Homo sapiens: one gene and its partner. The protein of the gene in region 2 interacts with the protein of the main gene of each other region in a biochemical or structural test. Each region holds a gene or a part of one and is shown on either strand. Other genes may lie near its edges.

Region 1 (15,499 bases), on a different chromosome or scaffold from region 2:
TGCTGAGAAAAAGAATAAAGAGGCATTTAAAGAAAGGGATGATCTAGACAGACAGGCTGGAAAGGGAAATACATCCGCTTTTTGGTGGTAATATTAGACAGAATCCTAGCATCTTATAACTGGATGCAACCTCCAAGTCCAGGAATCTCCTCTCCAGTTTATACCATCCCTGGCAGATGACTTCCAACCCCTGCTTGAATGCTTTTGGTAATGGGGAGCTTACTATATATCACAAGGCAATTCATTATGTTTTTTAATTACTCTGATATCTTAATAATATAATATCTGCCTCCTTGTAATCCTGCTTAATAGTGCTAGTTCTCTATTTTTGAGCCAGATAAGTCTTATCCTCTCCAATATAGCAGCTCTTGGAATATTTGGAGCAATTGTCATGTAAAGCTACTGAATCTAATATCTCTATTGTTCTTCAATTGTTTTGTATGTGATAGAGTTTCTGGACTTTTATTTGCCCTCGTCACTCTAATAAATCTAAGTAGATTTTTTTTGGTCAAGGTTTGTCTTAAAATATTAACAATAACAATAATAGCTCTCATTGACTGATAGAGCCTGCTATATGCAAGGTACTACTGTAAGAACTCTATGTGTATTAACTCATTTAATCAGCAAAATTTTCCCTGAGGAAGGTACTATTTTACAGATGAAGAAAGAATTTAAGTAAATTGAGAGACAGTGTGTGTGTAAATAACTTTCCCAGGTTTTAGAACTACAAATAGGAGAGTCAAGATGCAAACCCAAGCAAATCCAGGCAGTCCGATTTAAACTCTTAGTTTTTCATCTTGACAGAATGCAAAGTATAACAAAGCCACCTGCTCTTCTCTTTTTCTGCACATTATACTTCTACTAATGAAGCATTAATTTGTTTTAGAAGTCCTGTTATAAGCCCTCGTTGGCTTTTATTGAACTTGTAACCACCAAAAATCTTTAGGTCTGAGCAAAAAGAACAAAACTAGAGGCATCATACTACTTGACTGCAAAATAAACTTCAAAGCTATAATAACAAAAACAGCATGATACTGGCATAAAAGCAGATATATAGACCAATGGAACAGAATAGAGGGCTTAGAAATAAATTCACTCACCTACAGCCAACTGATTTTCAACAAAGTTGCCAAGAGCCCACATTGGGGAAAAGACAGTCTCTTCAATAAATGGTGCTGGGAAAATTTGGTATCCACCTGCAGAAGAACAAGACTAGATCCTGACCTCTCACCATATCAGGTCATATGCCACATAACATTTTGGCCAATGAGGGACTGTATATATGATGGTAGTCCTATAAAATTATAATAATGTATTTTTACTGTACCTTTTATGTTTAGATATGTTTAGGTATACAAATGCTTACCATTATGTTACAATTGCCTACAATATTCAGTACAGTAATATACCATACAGGTTTATAGCCTAGGAGCAATAGTCTACACCATATAGCCTAGGTATGTAGTGGACTATGCTATCTAGGTATGTTTTAAGTAGACTCCATGATGTTTGTGCAAATGACAAAATCGCCTAGTAAAGCATCTCTCACAATGTAGCCCCATTGTTACGTCACGCATACCTATAAAAATCAACTCAAAATGGATTAAAGATTTAAACATAAAATCAGAAGCTATGAAACTACCAGAAGATGATATGGGGAAATATTTTGAGACATTGGACTAGGCAAAGAAGTTTTAGATAAGACCTCAGAAACATAGGCAATCAAAGCAAAAATAGACAAATGGGATTACATCAAACTGGAAAGTTTGTGCACAGCAAAGGAAACAATTAGCAGTGAAGAGACAACCTGCAGAATGGGAGAAAATATTTGCAAACTATATATCTGATGAAGGGTTAATATCCAGAATGTATAAGAAACTCAAACAACCCAACAGCAAAAGAAACCCAAGTAACCTAATTTTAAAAATGGGCAAAATACCTTAATATTTCTCAAAAGAAGACATAAAAATGGCCAACAGGCATATGAAAAAAAAATGTTCAACATCACTGATCACCAGGGAAATACAAGTCAAAACCACAATTAAATACTACTTCACTATAGTTAGAATAGCTCTTACCAAAAGACAAAAGAAAGCAAGTGTTGGTGAGGATGTAGAGAAAAGGGAATGCTTATACCCTGTTGGTGGGAATGTAAATTAGCACAGCTCCTAATGGAATGGAAAACAGCATGGAGGTTCCTAAAAGATTAAAAGTAAAACCACCATAAGATCCAGCATTCCCACTGGTGGGTATATAGAGATATCTGTACTCCCATATTTGTTGCAGCACTGTTTACAATAGCCAAGACTTGAAATCAACCTAAGTTGCCAGCAGTGGATGAAAGGATAAAGAACATGTGGTATATGTATACAATGGAATACTATTCAACGATGGAAAACAATGATATCCTGTCATCTGAGACAAAATGGATGAACCTGGATGTTATGTTAAGTGAAATAAGCCAGACACAGAAAGACGAATAGCCAATAGCACATGATCTCACTTAAATGTGGAATATATATATATATGTGTATATTTACTGATCTTATAGAAGTATAGAGTAGATCAGTGTGGTTAACAGAGACTTGGGGGGAGATAGGGGAGGGGAGGATGAGGAGAGGCTGGTCAAGGGGTACAAAGTTTCAATTAGGAGGAAGAGTTCTGGAGTTCTTTTGCACAGTAGGGTGACCATGGTTAACAGTAAGGTATTGTATATTACAAAATAGCTAGAAGAGAAGCTTTTGAATGTTCTCACCACAAGGAAATGATAAATGCATGAGGCAATGGCTATGCTAAATACCTTGATTTGATCATTATACAATGTGTTCATGTATGGAAACATCAAATTGTACTCCATAAATATGTACAATTATAATGAGTCAATTAAAAATTTCAAAAAACTCTAGATCTTTTTCACATGATCTGCTGCTAGAATATGTCTTTCAAATTCTGTGGTTGTGCAATTGGTTTTTTGGATCTGAATTCTGTACTGTATCTTTTTCCCTATTCGGTTTCAGTTGGTTTTTCTTCGATGCGTGGTTCCAGCCTATTGAGTTGTTTTGAGTTCTGACTGTGCTGTCTCAGCTCTGTGTCACCAACAGAACTGATAAGTATACCTTCTGCTACCTCTCCTAGGTTGTTGGTAAAATTACCAAGCAGCATAGGAAAAAAGACAATTTTTGTTCCTGTGTTGGGGGAGGAACATGTTTGATTGTAACCAGACAGAGCCTTGTGAGACCACCTCATAACTTCGATTCTGAAATTATTAAGCAAATCCTTTTTCCTTACTTTCCTCTAACCCAGAATTTTTCAACTTCTGCCCTATTGACATTTTGGAATGGAGAATTCTTTGTGTTGGGGGCTGTCCTGTGCATTAGAACATGTTTAACAGCCCACTGACTTCTACCCTCTAGATGCTTGCAGTCCTGCCCCCTCCCCTCACCCAGACACCAGAAATGTCTTTAGACTGTCAAATGTTCTCTGGAGGGACAAAATTGCTTCTCCTTTCATTTACAATCACTGCTCTAGCCTCATAAATGATTAAACAATCAAGTATTTATTAAGAACCTACTATTTGCCTAGGACCTAATGATTTCTGTGAACACTGAAGAAGACATGGTCCTTTACTTCAAGAAGATTATACTGTAAGAGACATGACCAAGCCCACAGAACAACTGGAAGAAAAAAAGCCCATTACTGAGTGATGTGGTATGAGATTCAGGCTGTACGGCCTATAAGAACTCAGAGAATTGAGAAGACCAGTGAGAACAGAGATTTCAATAGCTCGGATTTGATTGGGTTGGGTAATTTGAATATAAATAGGCATGGGGAATTTCCTTCTACACAAAAACATATAGGCATACTTATATATTTAGGGAACTTTATTTTTTTATGTATAGGCAACCTTTCAAAACATAGGCGTTACCCTCTAAATAAAAAATCATGTAATCCCAGTACTTTGGGAGGCTGAGGCAGGCGGATCATGAGGTCAGGAGATTGAGACCATCCTGGCCAACATGGTGAAACCCCATCTCTACCAAAATACAAAAAATTAGCTGGGCATGGTGGTACACGCCTGTAGTCCCAGCTACTCGGGAGGCTGAGGCAGTGGAATCGCTTGAACCCAGGAGGCAGAGGTTGCAGTGAGCCAAGATTGTGCCACTGCACTCCAGCCTGGTGACAGAGCAAGACTCCATCTCAAAAATCAGAGCACACAATTTTACATGTATTTTGACAATGGGCAAAATACCTGTATTTGAAATCATACCTTCCTTGGAGAATTTGAGGTATGTGGTTTCAGAAGATGTGGAGGTAGTGGGTGGGAGGACATTCGGGTTGGAAATTCGGGTTGGAAGAGTAATGTAAATGAAGGTGCAGAAAACCAGAAGGAAACAGGCAAGGACCAGGGTTCATGCTAGGCACCCTGACAAATCAGGCAAGACGGCCAGCTGTGATGGAAGCACATCACAGAGGCACTGAAACCTGGCATAAGAGTTTTAGTCTCAGATGTTTTTGAGTTCAGGAGCAGCAGAATGAAAGATATTAAAGGAAGACAGTCTGACAAGGGATTGTTTAGGGTGAATGTGCTAGAAGGTGCAGGGGGTGGCTTGAGCGGTTGAGAGCCAGACAAGGTGGTAACTGAATGGGTAAAGGAGTAATTAATAAAAGAGGCATTTTGGAAGACCAGCAGGAAGGATAAAATTGAGTCAGTTCCTAGGAAGTTTCTTGGACATTGAAAGTGAGGCTCTGCCTTGGTATAGGGCTGAATTTCCCATTTTGGAAACTGGGAGAGCCATGGTGCCACTGACATTCTTTTCCTTTAAAACTCCAAATATGTTTCTTTTCCTTGATTAATCTTACCACATTCTGATTGCTTTTTTCCTTTGGGAGTGATAAGAATAGATTTCAGAAAGAGATGGCTTTTGATCAGGGCCAGGAACACTTGGTAGGAATTGAGTTGGCAGAAATGAAATGGAGATGTGTGTAGGGCATTGGACGAAGGAGAGAGTCTGAGCAGAGGCAATGGTGTGAGCCAGTGATATGTTTGGCAAAAATGCATAGCTGTTGATGAAAGGAGTAAAGTGTCAGTACCTGATTAGGACAGGTGACATGAAAAATGTGAGGAGACTAGCATCAAGGCCATGCCTCTGGCTCCTGGCTACTTCTTTAAAGTTTAAAATTTGTTTTGCTGAGCCCTATAGAGTCACTGAATTAGCTATTACTACAGATGAAGCTCTGTACACTGGAGGAGGAGGACTCAGATATGTAACAACCGGTTTTTTTCTCTTTCTAGCCCAGAGTTTCTTACTATGATCTGGATTCGTGGGGAGGAAGGCTGGGTAGAGCTAGACTCATCATCTGCTTTGGTGTTCTTGGGAGCTTATCTCTTTTCCTGCCAGGTAGATAGTTTTTCCTTTCTTTCCTTCCCTTCACCTCCAGACCTCCCTCCTTCATTTTCTTTCCTTCTCTCTGTCTGTCTGTCTAAAATATAGTTGGGAAGAAAAAGGTATCAGCCATGGGAACCTCTGGTGCACAGGTGTAAGGAACAAAGAGCTTTTCTGCCTTAGAATTAATCAGTTATCTCCTACTCACTGTAGCTCAGAAGTTGATCTACCTTTTGATGTTAAAATGCTAAATCTCACGGAAGTTATAAAATTTTCTCTCTTCCCACCCCTAACAAGAAGGAAAAACAAGTCCTCAACAGACTTATATGCATGTAGTAACTTATTACACAGTTCCTAGGTGTGAAGCAAGTGTCTGACCCTCAGGAAGCTGCTCCCTCTGCAGTGCTCAGGTAAGAACCCATCACCATCGCCCACCTGCTCACCCTCCCTGCTTCCCACCCCAGGACACCACACCTCTCAGGAATTACATGAGATATGGTATAAAAAGTTTTTTTATTTCAAAATGCAAAATGGTGGTCATTGTAATAATTAATAATAATAACATAAAAAGCATTTATCCTTCCTCCCTAGTGCAAAATGGTAGACGCATTTAGATAATTCACACAGTGTTGGAAATGTCATGACAATGCAGTGCTGCACAGCAGCAAAACTCAATCCCAAACTCCTTTGGTGGATGCTTGTGGTAGGTCAGTTCTAGATGTCAGCGGTTTCTCTGAAGTTAAGTCCAAATAAAAAACAGCACGTGCTCCTGCACTCTCCCAGCGGAGTCAGGCTCCTGTGCGCGCGCCCCCTCTGTCTCTCCATTCCTCTCTCGGTCTGTCTCTGTCTACTGCGTCTCCCTCCCACTCCGCTGGTCTCCCACAGTTCCTAGGAGGCGTGCTGCCGGTTGGACAGGGCCCGGCCGCCGAGGACCGTGTCCTGCTGCTTGCCTTTCTCCTGCAGGGCTTGCTTCTGGAGAGCCTGTCGCTCCAGGGCGGCCTGCAGCTCCGCCACGGCTGCCTCCTGGTCCCGCAGACGTCTGGCGGCCGTGAAGGGGCTGCACACAGTCTCCATCAGGCCGAGCACCACGCCGAAGAGGGCCAGCACGCTGCCCAGCACGTACAGCTTCACCATCTTCCCCTTGCGCTTCTGGGCCATCATCTCCTTGGCCAGGGGGATCAGCTCCTGGACCGTTTCCATCTCGGCTCTGGGCTCTCGGAGGCGGGAATGACCTGCAGGAGGAGCAGCAGGAGAGGGGCTTCAGCCACCAAAGAACGGCTCCCACCACCCCGCACCCAGCTAATCTTGGGGAGGGCTCATAGAAAGGCGGACTACCTTAGTGGCACGGCGCGAGCAGGAGGCAGCGCGAGCTGCAGTTGGCAGCGGTCAGCGCGTCCGTTGGTCCGACCGACCTCAGCGTTCTCCTCCTCTCGGCAGCTGCAGCTCTCCCAGTTGGAGACTCCGCCGCTGGCACCGCTTTAGCGTCCGGGGGCCGCTTATATCTTTTCTCTGAGACACGCCTCCTGGGCTCTCCGGCCCAGGCCAGCGCGGTCAGAGCCAGGGGAACTCGGAGGGGGAGGAAGAAGAGGAGGGGAAAAGGAGGGGGTGGAACCCGGCTGGGACCTGGCAGGAGGTGGCCACGCGCTGAGCACGCTCCGACTGTGTGAGCTAGGGGGCCCGGCGCGGGTGCCATCGCAGCGGGGCGCGTGGGAAGGCCAGTGTGCACGCGAAGGTCCCACTCCAGGCGAGCGCAGGGGAGGACCCGGAGCCCAGGGAGGTGTCCGCGGACATCTCTGACATGGCGGCAACCTTCTTACTGGTGTCAGCGGGTGCACAGCTTCCCTTGTCCAGGACAGCCTGACATTATAAATAATGAGGGAATTTGGGGGTTCCATCTAAAGAAGAAAGCTTTCATTTTTATTCGGAAGGGTTGTCACCTTCCCACGTGTGTGGCAATGGATCAGAGAGGAGAAGGCAAGGGGGAAGGATCTGGGTAACAGGACAGAACAGGTTACGCTTGGATAAAGCAATATGTGCTAATATTGTTTCTTTCCTGCCTGGTTGGTTTTATTTAGAGGTACATGCATGTATAACTAGAGTCAGTTGATAGAAAACTATTCATTGATGGTGCTTTTATGCACAGAGGTGTGTGTGTGTGTGTGTGTGTGTGTGTGAGAGAGAGAGAGAGAGAGAGAGAGAGAGAGAAAGAGAGAGAGATTAGTCTCTTTGCCTGCGAGCTGTTTCCTTATGTACTTCCGTGTATCAGGGAAGAGCCTTCAAATTCAAATTGTTCTCACTTCCACTTGAGAAGTGGAGTTGGGAGCTTGGGGGTAGGGGGTCAAGTATGGAAGGGGCTGTTGGTAGAAGTTCATCTGCCATTTTAGAATGGAAGTATTTCATGCTCTCCTCAATAATTCTCTGCCACCCTCCTGGGTTTGGGGGTACAACTTCACTGCTCCAGCTCAACTTCAGCTTTGAAGCAGTTTGTGGGCAGAAGGGCGTGTAGTAGACAGCTTAGGTAAGAATCCAGAGTGTGAGTACTCTTGGACGTGTGAAGATGTAGGATTGATTTTGACCAGGGTTAGCTGTAATCACCTGGGGCTGAGGGAGCGTTCTAGTTTGGCTTTGGTTATGGATATGCTAGAGTTAGCAAACTTGGGGAAAAAGAGAGGCAAATTGGCCAAAGGGTTAGCAAACTTGGGGAAAAGGAGAGGCAAATTGGCCAAAGGCCTTTAAGCAGAGAAAGGGAGGGGGCAGGGGAAAGAAGGGGAAATCAAACTGGCCAGAAAATTGCAAAGGTCAGTGATGCAATCTTGCAACAGCCTTTGCAGTCGGTCGGACTGAGCCCTGAAGGGCGGGTCGGGGGAAAAGGCTGTCTCAGGGATCAAATATTTTAGTTTTTGAATTGTTAACAGTAATCTTTCTTTGGGGGTCTGAAGCAATTTCTCAGATGATTCAGTTTAAAAAGGCAGCAATAACAACTACCCTTTGCCTTGACTATTAATAGTTCAGGCAAGGGCTTGTGTGTGGAGAATGGTCAAGGTTATCTAAATAGCTTATTTGAAATTCTATGTTTTAGAATTTAGTCTGAGTGAAGGTGACCAGGGGCCAAATAGAATTGATTATTCCTGGAGGACTGTGTTTCCTGCTTATTGTTCTTTTAACCTTGTCAGGCAGGAAAATTCTGTAACAAGGGTTCCTGCCAAGTTTAATATCAGTCTTGGCATTTTCTTTGAATCTTCCTTATAGTTTCAGAGCAACCTCTGATAACTGGCAGAAATGATTAGTGAGCTTTCCCAATATCTGTGAGGGTTCCAAACCCATTGACTTCTGGAAGAGCATGTGATGTGTGCCCTGATATAAGGGCTGTCACGTGGTTTCCATTCTGAAGGTGAGTCAGCCTAGCTTGGGACCCAAAATTCTGAAATTGACTGGTCCAGTAAGCATTTCCTGTGTTTCTGTAACTCAGAGACGCAAACCACACGTCTTCCTAGGTCAGAAGGCTGTAATTTACCTGGGGTTCCCCTTTCCTGTGATTTGCTGTGTTAGTGCACATCACCAGCTCAGTTCCTTTTTTTGATAATTTGACTTTGACCTCCAGGTTCCAGCAGCTATATTGGTAAGAGCTGGACAGAGGAGGGGCAGCAAGTGCCATGGACGGAGGTCACTGGTAGACTTGATCTTCCTAGTTTAGGTGGTAGCTGGGGCTGAGCAGGAGATGATGGGAGTAGAAGGCTAAGGAATCCAGTGTTAACTCATGTCTAGGAATTTCTGAGTGCAGCTCCTCTGTCTGGGTGGGAAAAGAGAACCTGGCTCCTAGGGTAGAAGGTGACTAGGTAGGGCTTGGAAACTAAACATATATTTTAGTGGGGCTGATGTCATTTTTAGGGAAGTAAAGCACTGTGTTGTGTCATGCATGCAGGTAAGATACAGGTTATAGCGATGATGGTCAAACCAAGCCATAGGGTGACCAACCATCTTATTTTGCTCAGGGTTGAGGGGTTCTCTGAAATGCAGGACTCCTGCTAAAACTGAGCACTAAAACTGAGATACTTCCAGGCAAACTGAAACACTTCCAGGCAAACTGAAATAGTCATCCTACCCTTGAGTCTATCTCAACATTTAACTCTTGCCACTTCTAGGAAGGTAGGAAGGACTAGTTTAAAATTTTTATATTTTGCTTTCTAAATCCCTTTCTCTCAGACATTAAGACATTCAGAGCCATCTGCAGAGGGTAAAGTCACAAAGGGGTGCATGTGTTTCAAGGGTTAAGTGCAGAGGAGGGATAGAACTGTCCCTACCCCTCTGCCTTGGGGATTGAAGACACAGGGGAAAGAGGTCTTTTGGATGGTTAGTTGTAAATGAGCTTCAATAATAATTGTTATTGTTACAATTATTATAATATAATAATAACAATAATAATTATTATTTTGTTACCGGCTGCTTGCTGCCTACACAAAGTCACTGCCCACCCCTGGGGCTCCAGGCAGCTGAAGGGAGGGAGTCATCATAGGAGATATGACAAAACTATTTGTAGTTTTAAGACTACCGCACTAGAAATTTTTTTTAGACCCTTAGTTACTTTCATAGTTTTAGAAAGGAAGTTGCTTATCACTCGGATATCAGTGGAAGACACTGAAATTTATATGTGTAGCCACTGTCTCCTCTGGTCTTATAGACTAGAGTTCTAGAGTCTAAATATTTCTGTGTGGATACACTGCTATTATCACAGCTTGACACACTTAAAACAAGACTCCTTACCTTCTCTATACTCTTACAAGCTAAGTCTTCTTCTCAATATCCTTATTTCTAGCAGTGACATCTCCGTTTCATTTGTTCTCTGGGCTTGAAATATCATGGAAGTTATTTGGAGAGGCCTTCCCTGACTACTGCATCCCACCACTCTCCACCCAGTGCCCTACTTTCTTTTTCTTCATAGCACTTGGTTACCTGATTCTATGTGGATGTACTTAATGGTGTGGTTTTATATTGTCTTCCATGTGCGTTGGAGGATAGGCTTCATGAGGATAGGGACTTTGGTTTGCTCCTCACTGTGTCCCCAGTGCCCAGTATAATTCTTAGCACATAATAGGTCCTTAATGGGTAACTATGGGATTAATGAATGGCTTTTCCATGGACTGTGAAGCCTGGCAGGGAAGGGACTGTTTTTTGTTTGTTTGTTTGTTTGTTTTTGAATGCAGTCCAACTTTTAGTAGATGCTTAAAGAAGCATTCAGGTTTTTGAGGGGACAGTTTTTTTGCTTTTAATCCTTTCTCCTCTAATCCATCTTAAACACTACCACCAAATGAATCTTCCTAAAATTTAATTTTTTATTGTCAACTGCCTGTTTAAAGGCCAAGATCATTTCTCATTGCCCACATAATGGACTCCTGGATCCTGCATGTTGAATTTGCTTGATTTAGTATTCTTGGAATTCAGGCTCTCTATGGTCCGATCTTCTCCTGTTCTTCTCCCACAATAGCCCTTTGCTCCACAGAGAGGTTTCTTCACAGGCCAAGAAACAATTCATTCGCATTGCTGCTGCTTCATTTATTTTTGCTCACACAGTTGTTTCTACCTGAAATGCTGTCCTCTTTCTACTTTGTCTTCCTTTCTTCCTTGAGGTCAAGTTCAATTTCCTGTGCTCCAAGAAGCTACCACTGCCCATGGCAGCACACCTTGATCTCTCCTTTCTGTGAATTTCAGTTGCCTTTGGGGCTTGTACTCTACAGGCTGGCACTGGATGGATTACCGTTTTGTACAACTCTGTCATTGTTTCCTGTGGGCTTGCCTCAGCTCTGTGGAAGACAAAAGCTTTGTATCTTTCATGGTGTTAACATAGAATAGGAGGCTAATCAATATTAGTTACATTGACCTAAAAGTCAGTGCTGAGATAGAGAGGGCAAAGTGACCAGTTAAGGCTCTCTTGGGAAGTTATTTCAAGCACAGTAGCCTGTCCTTGGCTCAGAGCCTTGGTGTTGAAATTGCCCAAGACCTGGCAACTTGGCTTAGTTTCCTCCACTCTGGTCTCCTCACCTTTCACTTCCACTCCCAACTTAGTGTCTGACATTGTAGCCATTGGCTCACTCTGGGCACCCTCCAGCCTGCCCGTGGTACAAATCAAGGCAAAGGAACAGACTTTATAGGCATTCTGCTTTTGTCCTTCATAACTTTTGGTCAAGCAGAGCCACCAGCTGCTGGGGCATGCAGACTGTGCTGGAAGCCTTGAATAGCCATGGGTGGTGTGGTTAGAATTACCTGCACCCTGCTGCCTACATACCACTTCCAGATTAAACAATATACTTTACAAGTTTGAGTCAGCACAAGGAATTTTCCCCAAGCTCAAATGCCAATTGGTCTTAAGGGTATAGGGCTCTAAAGTCAAGCAAACCTGGGTTCCTCCAAATCCTGACTCCTCCATTTGCTAAGGCCTGACCTTGGGCAAGTGACTTAACTTCTATAACTTCTACTTCCGTATCTGTGAAGTGAGAGTTATGATAGCCCCTATTAAATGGGGTGTGGTGATGATGATAAGCCCCTATGAAACAGATATGATGAAGAGTGAATGAGATAGAGCTCTGTAAGGGACTTAGGCAGTTTCTGGCACAAATGAAGCAATCATTAAATGATGGCTGTTATTATTCAATTGTCTTTGCCTCTTGCTCTACGTCGGCAATTTCCATGATGCTTTATCCCAGCCCGGGACATTTGCATTCCTTAGGTGACATTTAGGTAGCTTCTAGTAAGGTCCAAAAATATTTGTTGAAGCCAGCCATGTACCTGACACTGTGTTAAGCATAGTTATAGGAAGCAGAATGTGTGATGGCTCACACCTGTAATCCCAGCACTTTGGGAGGACAAGACGGGCGGATCAGGAGGCTGGGAGATCAAGACCATCCTGGGCAACATGATGAAACCCTGTCTCTACTAAAAATACAAAAATTAGCCGGGTGTGGTGGCACATGCCTGTAATCCCAGTTACATGGGAGGCTGAAGCAGGAGAATCACTTGAACCCAGGAGGTGGAGGTTGCAGTGAGCCGAGATCATGCCTCTGTACTCCAGCCTGGTGACAGAGCAAGACTCTGTTTCAAAAAAAAAAAAAAAATGCAGAATACAAACTGCATTTGCCCTCAAGAAGCTTATAGTGAAGTAGAGGACACAGACTGTAAACGAGTTATTATTGTATATTGGGAAAGGCACCGTAATAGAAATTTATACCAGATGAACAAAAAGCACAGAATGAGACAGGTATTGATGCCCTTTGGGGAGGAGGTAGTCAAAGAAGGCCTAAGGGTAAATGATTCCTGAGAGGCTTGGGATGTTAAAGGATGGATGGTGTTCACCAGGTGGTTCTGGGACAGGGTGTTGTTCAGGGCATGGGGAGGCCTTGAATGAGATGGGACTGCATGTGAAAAGGGAGGATGAAAGATAAAGCATCACATGGTCCAAGAGAAGTTAGACAAGTTGGTGTTAAATCATAAAGGATGGATTTTGGGAAATGGCAGAAAATGAGCAGGAAGCAGTAAGTAGGAGCCAGATAATAAGCAGTTGTATCAATAATCACTTATTCATCCCATGCCTAGGAATTGCTGACCACTCCCTTCTAGAAACACATTTCTCCTTTGCTTCCACGATACCATATTCTGCTGGTTTTCCTCTTACCCTATTCTGGACAAAACTCAGGATCTTTATCTCAATTGTCCTCTTTATCTAACCTACAAATGTCAGCATTTCTCAGGACTCAGTCCTGGAGCCCCTTTTCTTATTCCACATGCTCTCTTCAGTGATTTAATTTACTGCCAGGGCTTCCATTGCTGCTTCTACACAGATGACCTACAAGTCTGAGCTCTAGACCTGTGTATCCCTCTACCTATTCTACATTTTGACTTGGATGTCTTGCAGGTATCAGAATTACTGTGTCTAAAGCCAAATTCAATATTTCTACCCCATAAACTTGTAACCATCTTTCTTAACCTAAGCTGCACCATTCACCTAGCAGCTCAGGTTTGAAGTCAAGGAGCCATCTTTTCCTCCTTGCTCTCCATCACCTCTCCAATGTGAAAAATCACCAAGACTTGTGGCTCACGTCTGTAATCCCAGCACTTTGGGAGGCTGAGGCGGGTGGATCACGAGGTCAGGAGATCAAGACCATCCTGGCTAACACAGTGAAACCCCATCTCTACTAAAAATACAAAAAATTAGCTGGGTTTGGTGGCGGGTGCCTGTAGTCCCAGCCACTCGAGAGGCTGAGGCAGGAGAATGGCGTGAACCCGGGAGGCGGAGCTTGCAGTGAGCCTAGATTGCACCACTGCACTCCAGCCTGGGGCGACAGAGCGAGAATCCGTCTCAAAAAAAAAAAAAAAAAAAATCACCAAGACTTATCATTCTACCTCTTAAACATCTGTTAATTCAATCTGCTTTCTATCTCCTCTGCCACCCTTCTAGTCTAAGATCTCATTGCCTCCCCCAGACCATTTAGTATGGCCTCACAGCTGGTCTCTCTGCCTCAGGTTTTGGCCACTCTACTCCACTTCAAGCCAGTGTAGTCTTTTTAAAAAGTGCAGACTTGGCCATGTCACTCTTCTCTTTCAAATCCTTCAGTGGTTAGCAAAAAGTTCGTGGAATAAAAAAAAAATAAAATCATTCAGTGGATCCCCACTTTGCCCTTTGGAATGCCCCAGATTCTTTGCATGGCATATAAGCCACCCACCATCCTGTCCTTGTCTGCTTTTCCAGCTTCATCCCATATCCCTCAACCCTCACTCTCTGGGTGCCAGTCACACTGTTCTGTTCCTTTGCAGACGCAGGTTCTTCCCCATGTAGTTCTTTCCATGTGGAGAGAGCACTTTCTTCATCCCCTGTGGTCTGGTGAACTCTTACTCATCCTCCAAGTGTCACTGTTCTCTCATTTCCTCAGGGAAGACCTTTCTTGTCACCTAGATAAGGCCAGTTCCCTTTGCTGCATGCTCCCATGGCCACCTCACTTTCCTTTTCATAACTCTGTTGTCTGTCCCCATTTCAGGGCTGCAGTTCTACTCAGGAGCGCTCTCTGTCTTGCTCAGTGCAGTGTTCTCAGAACTAGGGCAGTGCATAGTTCCTTTGAGGTGTTTGATACATAGCGACCAATCTATCTTCGACTGAACTATATCCTATAGGCAATGAGAGACACTGATACATTTTACACAGCAAAACACTACAAGATTGGCATTTTAAGTAGATCACTGTGGCAGAGTGCAGGATGGTTAAGGGAGGGGCAAAACTAGAGGCAGCTAGTGAGATGTCGTTACAGTAATTCAGGCAGGAGACCATGAAGAACTGGGCCAAAACAGAGGTAATGGGGAGAGAAAGAGACAGACTGAGTGATAAATCAGAAAACCTGGCAGACTTGTGCTGTGGAAGAGGAGTCACTTGGGGCTTGGGAGTCACTGGGGTGACTCCCAAGTGTGGGAATGAGAAGAGGAAGAACACCTCTGGTGAGAAAAATGAGTTCCATCTTGGATTTATTGAGTTTGGGCTGTTTATGGGACATGCAGGCAAAGATGTTCATCAGATAGTTGTATGTGAATCATGAATCAGGAGCTCTAGAGAAAGATTAGTTCTGAGGTCACTGCCCCTACTGTTGCAGCAATCCAGGCCCTCCCATGATTCCTTTCTTCTCCAGCATTATTTCCCTGGGTCAGTTGTTCTCAGCCCTGGCTCCACTTTACAATCGTCCTGGGTTATTAAAAACTACCAATGCCTGAGACTTCCCCAAGACAAATCAACTCTGAATTCCTGGAGGTGATTTTAGTGTGTAGCCAGAATCATGGACTACTTCCTAGATGACTTCCTCCAGTTCCATGGTTTGAGACTCCTTCAGTGCTCTACAGAACTTTCTGCAGCAATGGAAACGTTGCATATCTATGCTGTCCAATATGGTAGCCACTAGCTACATGAGGCTCTTAAGCAGTTGAAATGTGGTGAAAACTGGTGGCCTGAATGTTTAATTTTGTTTAATTAATCTAAATTTAAATTAAATAGCCCCCTATGTGTGGTTGGTGGCTACTCTATTGGACAGGACAGCTCTATACGCTAATGAATCTGAAATTTGTTTCTCTCCTGAGCTCCAGGCTTA
Region 2 (6,417 bases):
TGTCCCTGGGCAGGGTCCTCACGTCTCCTCTGGGACATCACCATGTTGGCCTTGTGTTGTCCTTGGCTCTAGGGGGACCTGGGGATGGGGTCTTGCAGGGGTGTGGCCAGCGTGGACGTGGCCTCCCCCGAGCCAGGGGAACGGGCTGTGTGCGGGGCTGCCAGAGCGTCCTGGAAATGCCACTGTGGGGTATTGGGGCACCCCTCCGAGTGGTGCCACCTGTGTGAGGAGGTGCCCAGGCACTGGTGACGCCCGTCACGGTGGGGCAGGTCGGAGGGGCTCAGCCAAGGCGCTGATGACGCTGGTGACGCCCGTCACGGTGGGGCCAGGTCGGAGGGGCTCAGATCGCCGGGAGCCACCAAAGGGTCAGCGGGTGGCTGGCAGAGGCCAGGTCCCCTCGGCCGCCCTCCAGGACCCACGGGTTGGGAGCCACCCTGGCCTGCGTGTGCCTGGCCAGCCAGAGACCGCTGGGTCCGGAGCCCCTCTGTCCTCACACTTGGGGGGGTTTGCAGGTGATGCCGGCGTCACCGTGACCCGGCCTCCTGTTCTCTCCTGCAGGATTATATCTGTCCAAGATGCGAGTCTGGTTTTATCGAGGAGCTTCCGGAAGAGACCAGGTAATGCAGCCCCCTGTTGAAGAGGCTGGAAGAGCCAGCCGGGCCTCAGCTGTTGTAGGGGTGTGGGCTGTGCTGGCGTCCGCCCCGCCGAGTGTGGGGCCGTCAGGCCCTGGTGTCTGTGGCTCCGGGAGCACTTTTCTCTGTGCAGACAGCAGCGTGCCGTTCTCTTCTGTGATGGCCGGGCCGGGGCCAGAGGGGAGTGCCGGCAACCTGTGCAGCCGCTCACCTCCCTCAGCCTCGGCGGCTAATCTGGTGACCCAGGCCCTCCGGGGAAGGGGCCACGGGGGCCCTACCCACATTCTCACGCTTAGGAGGCTGTTGGGGTCTGCACCGGTTTATCGAGAAACCCGTGGTTTACTGGCGAGGGAAGCAGCAGCGGGTTACGGCACCAAATGCTGGGGCGGTGGCGGGTGGGAAGCAGTGCCAAGGACAATTCCTGCTCTCCCAACATAGGCTTTTGAGGGGAGGGAGCGCCTGGCGCATGGGGGCACAGGGTAGCCGGCACTGCTGACCTGCACTCTCTCCCCAGGAGCACAGAAAATGGTTCTGCCCCCTCCACAGCTCCCACAGACCAGAGCCGGCCACCGTTGGAGGTGAGTCGCCCGCCCCTCGTGCTTCCCGATCGTGTCAGCCTTGCTCGGGGCCCCGAGCGCCAGCCTGTCCCCACCTCGCCTCCCCGGCTCTCCCTGCCCGCACGGCGGAGGAAATTTTTCCCTCCAGGGGCCCGGGCCAGGGATTGGGGCGGCCCACGCTGCTTGGTTGGTTTCTTGGATGAAAGCGAAACTTCCACCGAGGCATCTCACACCAGCGGGGCAGGCTCTGCCCAATTCCTGCCTCCCTGTCTGCGTCTCCCTCCCACCCGGCACCCAGCAGGGCCCGTCTTGCTTTCTCCTTTGTCTTTGTGCCCTAGCGCCCCCAGCAGACTGCACGGGCCTGAGCCCCCGAGGTCACGCCCCCCTCCTCTCCCCAGCACGTGGACCAGCACCTGTTCACGCTGCCGCAGGGCTACGGACAGTTTGCTTTCGGCATCTTCGATGACAGCTTCGAGATCCCCACGTTCCCTCCTGGGGCGCAGGCTGACGACGGCAGGGACCCTGAGAGCCGGCGGGAGAGAGACCATCCGTCCCGGCACCGGTACGGCGCCCGACAGCCCCGCGCCCGCCTCACCACGCGGCGGGCCACCGGCCGGCACGAAGGCGTCCCCACGCTGGAAGGGTGAGGGGGCCCCGGGGGTGGCCGCGAGGGCCCCACGCCTTGAGGTCGGAAGTTCTGGCGCTTAGAATCCAGCACGGGTTCCACGGAAACGTGGCATCATCCATAGGCTCTCTGGAGAGGCCGCCCGGCCAGGCCCTCCAGCCCCCTGTGACTCCCCACACGGCCCTTCGGAGACAGAAGTATGCCGGTTCAGGGTGTGTGGGTTGACCACAGAGTGGGGCACCGTGTGCCTGCCAGGCCCACGTGCTCTGGAGACTGCTGTCCACACGCGTGTCGTCAAACGCTGTCCAGGCCTTGGGCCCAGAACAGAGCCTGGGGGAGCCGTCGCAGGGCCCCACTCCTGGTGGAACGGAGCCTGGGGGAGCCGTCGCAGGGCCCCACTCCTGGTGGAACGGAGCCTGGGGGAGCCGTCGCAGGGCCCCATTCCTGGTGGAACAGAGCCTGGGGGAGCCGTCGCTGGGCCCTGCTCCTGGTGGAACAGAGCCTGGGGGAGCCGTCGCAGGGCCCTACTCCTGGCGGTTGATGCTTTTATGGTTGTGTGTCTCACCTGCTGGAAATGTCATCTTTAAAAGTGGCTAATTTTGCCAGGCACGGTGGCTCAGTGCTGTATTTGCAGTTCTCTGGGAGGTCAAAGAGGGAGGATCTCTTGAGGACAGGAGTTTAAGACCAGCCTGAGCAATGTAGGGAGGCCCCATCTCTAATTTTTAAAAAGTAGCTGAGGCTGGGTGAGGTGGCTCACACCTGTAATCCTAGCACTTTGGGAGGCCGAGGCGGGCAGATCACTGAGGTCAGGAGTTTGAGACCAGCCTGACCAATATGATGAAACTCCGTCTCTACTAAGAATACAAAAATTAGCCAGGCATGGCGGTGGGCGCCTGTAATCCCAGCTACTCAGGAGGCTGAGGCAGGAGAATCACTTGAACCCGGGAGGCAGAGGTTGCAGTCAGCCGAGGTCGTGCCATTGCACTCCAGCCTGGGCAACAAGAGTGAAACTCTGTCTCAAAAAAAAAAAAAAAAAAAAAAAAAGTAGCCGAGAGTGGTGGACCTCTTCTGTGGTCCCAGCTACTTGGGAGGCTGAGGCGGGAGGATCGCTTAAGCCCAGCAGGTTGGGGCTGCAGTGAACCAAGATCAAGCTGCTTCTCTCCTGCCTCGGCATTAGAGTGAGACCCTGGCTCATAGTAAAATAAATAAATAGAAGCTAATCTAGAAGCTGATGCTGGCCCTGCCCTTGGTGCTCACCACGGACCTGGCAGGCCTGGCGCCTCTCCTGTGCGTGGGGCGGCCTCACCCCGTGACTGGCGCTCTCTTTTCCAGGATCATCCAGCAGCTCGTCAACGGCATCATCACGCCCGCCACCATCCCCAGCCTGGGCCCCTGGTGAGTGGGTGGGGGTGCCTGTCCCCATCCCCAGCCTGGGTCCCTGGTGAGTGGGTGGGGGTGCCTGTCCCCATCCCCAGCCAGGGTCCCTGGTGAGTAGGAGGGGGTGCCTGTCCCCATCCCCAGCCTGGGCCCCTGGTGAGTAGGAGGGGGTGCCTGTCCCCATCCCCAGCCTGGGCCCCTGGTGAGTGGGTGGGGGTGCCTGTCCCCATCCCCAGCCTGGGCCCCTGGTGAGTGGGTGGGGGTGCCTGTCCCCATCCCCAGCCAGGGTCCCTGGTGAGTAGGAGGGGGTGCCTGTTCCCATCCCCAGCCTGGGCCCCTGGTGAGTGGGTGGGGGTGCCTGTCCCCATCCCCAGCCAGGGTCCCTGGTGAGTAGGAGGGGGTGCCTGTCCCCATCCCCAGCCTGGGCCCCTGGTGAGTGGGGTGGATAGACGCACCTGCCCCAGCTGCCCGTCAGCCACTTGAACCCCACCTTCCACCTCCAGGGGAGTCCTGCACTCAAACCCTATGGACTACGCCTGGGGGGCCAACGGCCTGGATGCCATCATCACACAGGTACAGCGTGGCCACGGCCCAGAGTGCCTGCTGGGGGAGGGCTGGGCTGCCCACCCCTGGGAGCTGCCCCACTGCCTGGACCCACGAAGCCCCACAAAGGTCAAAGGGGATGCGGGCACAGCCTCCACGCTCTGGCGGGCACAGGGGGCAGCTCCGGCCTTCCTCCTGCCATTTCTGAGTCTTGGCAACTTTGGGGGTTCTCCTGTGTTCACGCGGAACGTTGTAGCAAAACCGCGGGGAGGACTCGCCCACAGTCACATGGTCAGGAGGCCACGCGGTCCCTCTTCCCGAGAGGTCGCGCCCTGACCTGCTTCCAAGTGCCACCCGTCTCAGCCTTGCTGAGGAGCCCTTGGAGCATTTTGTCACTGGCAGGACCCGACCCTCACAGTAGCCCACCAGCCGGAGCACGGCCCCCCCATTCCGCCGTCAGGGCACTCAGGAGCGCGGCCCCCCCCCCCATTCCGCTGTCAGGGACCCAGGAGCGCGGGCCTCCGCCCATTCCCCCATTCCACCGTCAGGGGACCCAGGAGCGGGGGGGCCGCGTGGGCTCCACAGTGATCTCCGACCCCGGGCGGGCTCCAAGGGGCCCAGGGCCCAGGACAAACGCGGCCTCGGTGCTTTTGCAGGTCCTGCAGCCTCGCGTTTCAGAGCCCCGGGCCGGGCCCCCGAGGAGCTCCCGGCACTCTCGCCTCTTGTCTTTCAGCTCCTCAATCAGTTTGAAAACACAGGCCCCCCACCGGCAGATAAAGAGAAAATCCAGGCCCTCCCCACCGTCCCCGTCACTGAGGAGCACGTAGGTATGAGAGCTCAGCCTCCCGAGTAGTGGGAATTACAGGCACCCGCCGCCACGCCTGGCTCATACTTGTATTTTCAGTAGAGACAGGGTTTCACCATGTTGGTCAGGCAGGTCTCGAACTCCTGACCTCAGGTGATCCTCCTGCCTCGGCCTCCCAAAGTGCTGGGATGACAGGCGTGAGCCACCGCACCCGGCCTCGAGCATTTCCCTGAAGGTGGGCTGGGAGGAGAGGGTTCTGTCCAGGTCCCCTCTGGCAGCCCGGGGGACACACACACGGCTTTTCTCCCCTCGCTGGGCTCAGGGGCGGCCTCCGGCTGAGGCTGTGGAGTAGCCTGCCCTTGAAGGCTCGGCAGGCCCCCCACGCCCGCTGTGACCGCAGCTGCACACTCCCGCAGGCTCCGGGCTCGAGTGCCCTGTGTGCAAGGACGACTACGCGCTGGGTGAGCGTGTGCGGCAGCTGCCCTGCAACCACCTGTTCCACGACGGCTGCATCGTGCCCTGGCTGGAGCAGGTGAGTGCCCCGCCCACCCGCCCCCCCACCCCGACCGCGGCCCTCCCGCCTCTAACCTGCCCCTTCTCCCGTCCCTGCCTCTGTCCCCACAAAGCACGACAGCTGCCCCGTCTGCCGAAAAAGCCTCACGGGACAGAACACGGCCACGAACCCCCCTGGCCTCACTGGGGTGAGCTTCTCCTCCTCGTCGTCATCGTCCTCCTCCAGCTCGCCCAGCAACGAGAACGCCACAAGCAACTCGTGAGCCCACGTCGGCCGTCGGGAAAGCACGGGGCCTTTCCCACCCACCCTCAGCCAGCGCCACACGGCACCCACAGACTGGGTGCCCCGGCGGCGCCACGCTTGGCTGGTCAGCGCTGCAGGTCCCGCCTGTTCCAGGGCAGGACCCGGGCCCGGCCCACCGGCCCCCTGGCTTGGGAAGGCGTGGGCCACATGGTCCCCTCTGGGGCGTCCCCAGCCTCCCCGTCCTCTGTCTAACCTCACCCTCTAAACGTTCAGCGGTGGAAAGATTTTTATAATTTTAAATTATTACTGCTTTGAAATAAACGGACGTTTGAGCTCACGTGGCGGCCATGCATGGTTTGTGGCGGAAGACGGGGCCCAGCGGCTCCCCCAGCGCTGAAGCACGGGGTTCAGCGGCTCCCCCAGTGCTGCAGGTGCCGCCAGGACGGGCCACGTGGGCCCCCAGCCTCCCCCTCGGCCGCCTCCACGACCCGGAGTAGGGGGGCTCGGGACCATGAGGATGACCAGCAAAATTCAAGAACAAAACTGCTCCAACAGACTTTTTTAAAGGAAAAAATATGTGTATCTTGAAAGCTATTTAAAATACACTACTTACAAAGAGAAGCCGGTGCTGTGGCTTTCCTTCTGCGCCCGTGCGTCAGGAAAAGGCCAAGCTGGGAGGCTGGTCGGGCTCTGCAGAGTCCGGTCCTGTCTCCAGGGGTCTGCGCCTCCTGCAGGGCTTGGCACCCAGGGCCGGCTAGCAAAACTGCTCTCCCGAAGTTAAGCCCAGGAGGGCTGCTGGCGAGGTAGCAGGGTGGCAGTGTCACTGGGTCGTGAAATTTAAAACCAGAAACACCAGCGTTAAAGCGCCAGGGCCCAGCGCCTCTGCCCCACGCTTCGGTCACACCTCAGCCACGCGGGTTCCTGGCCCCTTCTGAAAAGCCGGACCCCACTGCTCAAGGTTGCTGGATGCCTGGCCCGGGGTGCAGCCAGCTCGGGCACAGCTGGCAAGGCGTGGGGACCTGCGGGCTCAGGGGGCCGGGGCAGTGGGTTCATCTCAGTTGCTGATGATCCCACCATCCTGGGATCCAAGAATCAGACGATGGAGACAGCTAACGGAGAGG

Evidence for each region.
Region 1: of the proteins of RNF126 (region 2) and G0S2, one has a biochemical effect on the other in vitro, tested with the Homo sapiens proteins (one study listed by BioGRID).

The regions. Positions count from the first base shown.
Region 1 is NC_000001.11:209,666,770-209,682,268, reverse strand, and holds G0S2 (G0/G1 switch protein 2), read right to left. Parts: upstream 6,858-15,499; 5' UTR 6,720-6,857; intron 6,617-6,719; 5' UTR 6,585-6,616; coding exon 6,273-6,584; 3' UTR 5,879-6,272; downstream 1-5,878. UniProt on the Homo sapiens protein: Promotes apoptosis by binding to BCL2, hence preventing the formation of protective BCL2-BAX heterodimers.
Region 2 is NC_000019.10:647,026-653,442, reverse strand, and holds the end of RNF126 (E3 ubiquitin-protein ligase RNF126), read left to right. Parts: intron 1-558; coding exon 559-617; intron 618-1,146; coding exon 1,147-1,210; intron 1,211-1,587; coding exon 1,588-1,832; intron 1,833-3,146; coding exon 3,147-3,209; intron 3,210-3,694; coding exon 3,695-3,764; intron 3,765-4,390; coding exon of another isoform or gene 4,391-4,467; coding exon 4,468-4,561; intron 4,562-4,955; coding exon 4,956-5,071; intron 5,072-5,165; coding exon 5,166-5,315; 3' UTR 5,316-5,917; downstream 5,918-6,417. UniProt on the Homo sapiens protein: E3 ubiquitin-protein ligase that mediates ubiquitination oF target proteins. Depending on the associated E2 ligase, mediates 'Lys-27'-, 'Lys-29'-, 'Lys-48'- and/or 'Lys-63'-linked polyubiquitination of substrates.